2 linked regions of the Homo sapiens genome follow. The protein of the gene in region 2 interacts with the protein of the main gene of each other region in a pairwise test. Each region holds a gene or a part of one and is shown on either strand. Other genes may lie near its edges.

What was found. The genes of interacting proteins can lie anywhere in the genome.
Region 1: the proteins of TARS1 (region 2) and C7orf25 interact in binary tests that used the Homo sapiens proteins (3 or more experiments, as listed by UniProt).

What each region holds. Positions count from the first base shown.
Region 1 is NC_000007.14:42,909,271-42,913,484, forward strand, and holds C7orf25 (UPF0415 protein C7orf25), read right to left. Parts: upstream 2,801-4,214; 5' UTR 2,645-2,800; intron 2,574-2,644; exon of another isoform or gene 2,198-2,573; intron 1,924-2,197; exon of another isoform or gene 1,791-1,923; coding exon of another isoform or gene 1,770-1,790; intron 1,652-1,769; coding exon of another isoform or gene 1,631-1,651; coding exon 365-1,630; 3' UTR 3-364; downstream 1-2.
Region 2 is NC_000005.10:33,454,465-33,457,964, reverse strand, and holds part of TARS1 (threonine--tRNA ligase 1, cytoplasmic), read right to left. Parts: intron 3,021-3,500; coding exon 2,899-3,020; intron 2,379-2,898; coding exon 2,261-2,378; intron 1,964-2,260; coding exon 1,899-1,963; intron 1,817-1,898; coding exon 1,738-1,816; intron 709-1,737; coding exon 562-708; intron 1-561. UniProt on the Homo sapiens protein: Catalyzes the attachment of threonine to tRNA(Thr) in a two-step reaction: threonine is first activated by ATP to form Thr-AMP and then transferred to the acceptor end of tRNA(Thr).

The DNA of each region.
Region 1 (4,214 bases), on a different chromosome or scaffold from region 2:
GCTTGAATTTTCTCCAGATATTTAATGCAAGATGCAATGTAGCCATATTCCATGAAATGTGGTTAGCAGTAGGGGAGTTGTAGCCCTATCGAATCAAAGTATTACAATACAGCTGAAAGCTTTATATAGACGTATTTCGGTTCTTAATTGCACTAATGCAGACAGTTTGATAGATAAGCTTCTCTCTTGTGCTTTTTCTACTTTGGGAGGTTATATACTTTAGATGAGAGACAAAGAAACTCTACTGGTTTAAGAGTTCTCAGTTTTACTTTTACTATAGACCTTTTTTCCCACCAGTTTAGATGGGAAGACCCAGCCTTTGGTATAAATAACTTACTTCCACAAAAATATTTAAAGGGTATCTTTAGTGTTCACTGTCAGTTGTGTAGTCTTTTGGTAAGGGGGTGGCTAGAGCCTCTTTACTCTCAGTAAGTGCTCTGGGCTGATGGATAAACACACTAAATTTAACACCCTGGTTGTTTGCAGCTCTGACAAAACCACTATTAGCAGTCATTGTGATGGCTTTTAGGGTGTCTCCCGTCCCAAAAATTGTTAATGAGCGGCTATTAATTTTTGAACTGGCCACTAGTCTCAAGGCACGCTCAGAAGGCTGGTCTGGTACCACATTAATTCGCTTAATTAACACAGTGGCCCTCTCTCTCTCCCCAGGTCCTCCTAAGGTATCTAAAATAGACTGAAAGTCCTTGACAGCAGATTCACAAGCAAACAACTCCTTGTCCTTCATAAAGGCCTCCAGCTGAGGTAGAACCTGCTCTTTCCTCTCTTGCTCTGCTTGTTCTGTGAGCACTTTCTCTTTGAAAATAAAGTGGCAGCCTCCATAGCTGAGGGCAGATACATATGTGATTAAAGTAGTAATGTCCAGATTTACTCTTTTGCACACATCGACCTTAATTTCTGTTGGAAACGCAACACTTGCTAGTATATTTTCTCGGTCAACTCTGGTCACCTGCAAAAGTTCAGGGCCCTCATCATCTGATTCACTCTCACTTGGTTGAAGCTCTTCAGGGTGATCTAACAGAGCGTTGACTGCTACTATGTCTCCTCTCACAGATATGCCCATTTCTTTCAGCTTCTCTGCCATGGGGCTGGAGACACTGTTGTAAAATGCAAAGATGATGTGAGGGTTGCTATACTGCACTGGCTGCTGGTGACTGGCCTGGAGGAAGTCTTCAGCCTGCTCAATGATGCTTTTGTCACCATATTGGCCCCTGCCCAGCCAGATGTTATGAAGAGCTTCAGCCTTCCGGCCAATGGCTTTCACCCAAGTATGACCACCATTTGCAACTACATCTACCACAAGGGTTTGCTTTTCTCCTAAGGTATCTGTATAACCAAAGACATGAAGAACACTAACAACTTCTTCCAGGTTTTCTGCTGATTCCACAATGGCTCTCAGGTGTGTTAGGTTAGTGCTCTGTAAATGAGACTCTTTAATAGCTACTTTCCCAGCTTCTACTTTCTGCAAGAATTTTAATTCTGCCTTCAATTTGCTGCACAGCTTTGCACCACCTTCTATGCCACCTTTTCTTGATCTAGAAAGTGATTCTGCTCTCTTGATCAGTTCCTTGGCTATGGCGATTCGTTCACAGAGCATGGAATGTGCAGACATGCTGTCAGCATTATTCCTTTCCTAGGGAAAGAAACAAGGCAAACTTCAGTAGTCTCCTAAAATTATGACAATCAATTCTTCACTGGTGATTAAAAACTTCAATCTAGCAACACAGCTTATGGAGGGTGAGTCTATGAACCCGGGCTTGTGTATGTCTCATTCTGGAGTGACTGCTTCCTCTGATAGCTAAGGAAAGGATGGCAGCTACACTTTTGAACTCTTCTTTAGGTACGTCTGACACACTTTAGACCTTCATTTCTTCAGCTTGAAAGCCATGGGGACACAGCATGGTCCTAGGTTAGGATACAATGCAAGAGTTGGGCAATCTGCTATATAAATAATTCCCTTATGTCTATCAGCGGCCTGTTTAACTGCTGAGAAATTTTAATAAAGGCGACAAAAATGCCGAAAACAAAAATACACACAGACTGGCTAGTTAGCAAACTGTCCAAAGCAAGTGTCTGTCCTAAACTGAGCACTTCAGCCTCCCTAACCTTTTCCTCCTTCCCGAGTTGGTCTCCTTCAACCGGCTGCCTCATGATTTCCCCCGAGGCTTGGGGTACTTACGCCAAAAAAAATCAACACTGCCTCATTTCTGCATTTGACGTCAACCCAGACTATTTTAAAAGACCGAAGAAGACCACCAACTTGCGTCCCACTCCCACTCCGACTCTGAAGGAAAATCCGAAGATGAAACTAAACTCCAAGGCTGCAACCCGCGGCGGCCGTGCAAGCGGCCCCAGCGCAGGTCGCCGGGTGGGCGGGCCAGAGGCCGGCGGGGCCTTCTCGGTGGGCTGCGGGGCCCTCGGCCCTGCCCGGCCACCTGCACAGCCGGGCCCTGCCAGGAGGGGCCGGGGCCGAAAAGCCCCCACCGCCAGCGCCGCGGCTCAGGGACCAGGCGCTGATAGCGCGCGGCCGACCCCCTTCCCGCCGGGCCGGCCCTGCCCAGCCCCCTCTGGCCTCAGAAGAGGCGCCCCGCTCCCAGCCTCCCCGCCTCGCTCCCCGGCTCCTCACCGGCAGCGCCAGAACCGCGAGCGCGAGCACGCAGGCGCGTGCACGCAGAGGCCGGGACCCGCCGGGAAATCTCAACCGGGCAGCCCCCACCCCGCTCGAACGCCGAGGCGGCTCCACCCGCGCGAGCCCCGCCGCCTCGGGCACCTCCTGCATCACGTGGTTCCGGGCCGGGTGACGCCAAACCTGCGATTCCCAAGCGGCAGCGCGGCCTCCCGAGCCGGGTTGACGCTGGCGTGGCGGCCATGTTTATTGAGGGCACCTGGCTTCTCCCGCTTGCGCCGCCGGGTGAGCCTGAAGGCGCGCACCCACCTGGCTCCAGGAAGAGGGACCGAGCTCGCGTGCTGGGCCTCACTCCCACTGGGGGCGTCGGCCACTCGATCGCAACCGGGTCGTAGGCATTTTGGGGGCTCATTTTAACAGAAGAAACGCTGGAGAAGCTTGTCAGAGGTGACAGCTGAGAAGTACTGCCTCTGGGACTTCTGCCTCCAAGCCAAAGCACTTTCCACTGCATTGTCCTGGGCCCTCCAAAGAAAGTGTGCTGTCCTTCTGAAGAGAAGAAATGATTGCATGGCTTCCGAGGGGCTGCCATATTCATATTACTGTAGTAGAGTGTCCAGAGTCACCCAGAAAGATTAGGGCTGTAAGAAAGTAAAGCTAATTTAAAATATTAAAGAGGACTTCCAGTTATAATTAATCCTGTGTATCCTGCTCCTTCTCCAAACTTAACAGTAAAGCAATGCTCCTTCTCCAAATAACAGTAAAGCAATGACAAAGGGAACAAACAAAGGCAAAAAGAACAAGAGAAGAGATGACTGCAGACCGGTTATACCAACACATTTTTGGAGGACAAGAGCAATAACTTATTCAGTCCTTACAGCGTGACAGACATTGTTCTAAGTGTTTTACACATTGTTCACTCCTTTAAACAACCTAAAAGGTAGAGATATTAAGTATGCTTTACAGATAAGTGAGCCATAGGGAGGTTACCTGAACCCAAGCACCCTCTTTGCAGATGGTGTCAGGAGAACTGAGCAAACTGCTTGTAGAAGGGGATATTTAGCCACTGATTCACAAAGCAGAACCCCAGAAAGCTTCAGGTGCCTTGAAGGTAGAAGGGAGGGCAGTAAATTGTTCAGGCAGAAGACTAGTTTAAGATGCTAAAGACAGGGCATCAGAGGGATTCCAGACACAAAGCCTAACAAAGGATGAGAGGTGCCATGATGTTTTCCTACTGAATAGTGCAATGCTAGCAGCCCCCTTCTCTGCCCCTCCCATAATGCAGGCACCCCTCTACCGCTCCCTACCACTATCTCCCCATAACCCTATTTTTCTCTGAAGAAATGAGTAGACAAAAGACCCTAGAGAAATGGCTCGGCAATACCAACATTCAGCATCCCCTAGTGTGAGCCTCACGAACACAGCATTTCCCAACGTTTTTGTTATTTGAAGGAAATGGAAAACAGAACAAAATGGTCTCAAAAAGTATTCTATAACTAGCATCTTCAAATAAAAGATATTTCAGCTATGAAACAAGAGGATTTCTTTTTTTAAGGAGACAGCAGAGCACAGG
Region 2 (3,500 bases):
GGCTGCTACCTCCAGCTCAAGCTTCATAACCTAATAGCCAAGGACCCCTGGCACAGAGTGCCTATTTTAAGGGGGAATGTTTTATCTAGCCTAACTTCCAGTTTAGAGGACATTCAGCAGTAACAGAGATAATGGGTAGAGGAAATGATAGCACAGGATCCATGTGCGACATGCTGCTAAACCTTGGGCAACAAGTAGGTTAATCTTTGTGGGACTCTGTTTCCACATTTTAAATGAGTCAGTGAAACTAGAGGGTTTCCATAGTTCTCCCAGCTCTATGAGAAGCTGTTATACTTCTTTTACAGAAAACCGTAGATCATCAGTGTTTGCTCTCAATAAAAGTAGTTCAAATGCATTTTTGTGCGGTACTGAGCATACTCCAGGCAGATAATGTGGACAATCAGTAAGTGTTTATAGTTTGTACAGGACATAGCACCAGTTACTAAAAAGCCACAACATCTCTTCAAAACAAAATTCCTAGTACTTCATGCAGCTGAATTTCAAACTTCAAATGAAGTTGAAGAAAACTCAGTCAAGACACATCATTGTTCTTGAACATACCCTGCCAATTTTCCTATGATCTCGGTTTTTAGCTTCCTCTTGGAACTTCTCCCACTCTTTCAACATTTTAGGATCTGGGAATGAAATGCCATAAATTCTCTGGAGAGTCTCCATATCTGCTTTGCCTTCCCAGTACGTGGAGGAATTCTGAAAACAAGGATTAACCATGAAACAACATTCAAATTTGTAAACATCTCACTTATTTTAACTCCCAATTGCTTTGAGGCCTTGTTAGAGTAGTTACTCATTCTGCAGCACAAAGTTGGCTGTTTTCTATCCTCAAAAATGCCCCTCCCTCAATCTGCAGGTGGGTGCAGTGGCTCATGCCTGTAATCCCAGCACTCTGTGAAGCCGAGGCAAGAGGATTGCTTGAGCCTGGGAGTTCGAGACCAGCCTGGGAAACACAGGGAGACCCCATTCTTTATTTAAAAAAAAGAAAATTACCCAGGCATGGTGGTGTGCGCTTATGGTCGCAGCTACTCAGGAGGCTAAGGCAGGAGGACTGCTTGAGCCTGGAGTGCAGTGGCACGATCTCCATTCACTGCAACCTCATTTCCCAGGCTCAAGTGGTCCTCCACTCTGTCTTTTTGGGGCAACAGAGTGAGACCCATTCTACACCCCAATACCCCCAAAACTGCCCACCCCTCAATACTCAACCACAATTCCACAAACATTACTTTGCCTGCAAAGGCATTTCTCACAAAATGAGCAAAAATAGAAATGAGCCAATAAAAAAAAAATCTTGAAATGACTCAATTATTCTCTTGATTTAAAGTGCATTTTAAAAACCTCCATAAAATGTTTATGAACTAGTATAAAACTGGGTTCTGTTAAAAACAACAACTTGGGAAATTATTAATTTAGACATATAAAGGGCAAAAGCACATACTCCCAGTGAGTCTCAAAGCTTTTATAGAGCCAGGATGGCCCATGCTGTATGATTTTGTAAAATCTCCATCCCCTGTGATTGCTCTGGCAATGACAGCAAGTCAGTCACCCCTTGAGGGATTTCAATTATAAAATCCTGATGGCATACAGCTCCCAGTTAATAGAGAGCATGAGAAAATACCATCCTTTCATGTGCAACAGAAAATGGTAAAGAGAAATCAGTGAAAGTTTAAACATATATCTATTCTAGACAGATACATTCACAGTCTTTAAAGTTACATTACTTACTTTGTGTATTTTTAAAGCCTTAATTTTGCCCGTGTGTCTAACATGAGGACCCCGGCAGAGATCTATCAAAGGGCCACATCTAAAGATAAAATGAAAGGAATTTTAACAAAGACAAAATGACATACATACCAGATACATTTAATGACATCTAATATTCTTACCTATAGACTGTGGTAGTTGGAGTATTCACCTTTTCATTCAATATCCGGCATTTGAACTTGTTGTACTGAAAACAGGAAAAATTATTATTTTAAAAAACTGTCCTTTAATTTTTACTTCTAAGTACTATAGCTAAAACGTAGCACTGTATGAATATAAATGTTGATACTTCATGTTTTAAAAACATGTTGAAGGAATGGTTTGCTAGGAAAAAAATGAAATTAAAAAAATAATAAAAACACTTAATTTTTGCTAAAGAACCAATTAGACTTCAGCTTAGTACACGGAACGCCAGTGGTGTCACTTCAACTAACATGAATAAATGATATTAACAGTGGGGGCCACGCACTATGGTTCAATTTACCTTAAACATTGCCAGTAAAGTTTCTTTCTTAACTTCCAGTCTTTCAAAAGCTTGTTTTTCTTTAATGATTTTCTTACACAAAGCCTCCAGAGAAGAGAAATCATTGCTAGACACACCCCTGAAGGAGAAGAAAGTATAATCTTTTCATTCCATTCGAATCACACCATGGCTTCGAAAAATGTTCATTTGGAAATAGTATTTGGAATACTTCAAGGGTTTTAATATTAAAAAATTAGACTATTGCATCGTATCTTAGAATTCTAAACAAAACATTTTTCATAAGTAATTTTTACATTTTATATTTTCAGTAGCTTCTACCTTGGTCATCCATGGAGACCTTTCTCACTAGTGACCCCTTCCCGCAACTCTATCACCAGGTTTTAAAGGAGAGGGGAGGACCAGTCTCCCTGAATTTCCCAAAATACCTTAGGACTCTACCTCCATCAATCTAGAACAGAGGTCTCATCAAATCCTCTATTACTTCAGGTAAATTGCAACACTTCAAGTACTGATAATGGGCATACCTGATGAAGAAGCAGTGAGATCTATATCATTCCTCCCTTACTGAGAACTCTTAAGAATAACTTATGGATCCATAGTCATTGACTTCAGTTTTCTTTATCTAGTTGATGGCTTACCCTTCTTCGAGGTACATGTCATAATAGAATCCATTTTCTATTGGCGGACCGTAGCATAAACATCCACCATAGACTCTTTCCATGGCTTCACCCATTATGTGAGCACTAGAGTGCCAATACACCTGAAAATTTAAAGAAAAATGGCATGGTCTGAGTCTTGGCATACAAGTTGCCAATTAATGTGGTTGTCTGAAAGAGACAGATGATAATATTTACTACAAGTAAACCCAATATATAAAATCCTAAATTTCTAAATCTATAAACTACTGTTTCTATCCATAGCCAAAGTAATTCAAAAGGCTTCCAATTACTAGTGTATTTTTATTTTGGAAATCATCTGGTTTAGCTGTTTTCAAACAAATTAAACTAAACTTGGCATCACTAATTAAATGACATAGACTTTGTTCTCTGAAAACAACTGCTACTCACAATGTGACTAACTCATTGATTGCAATGGCCCAGGTTCTTTTGAGTCAATGTGCCCACAGCACCATGTCTCAGACACTGTGATCTGGCCTTTAGCTGGCTATGGAACATCACTTAGAAATTACATGTTGTTACTGGCCCAAAACAAAGGTGGTACAACCCGACCCCACAACACA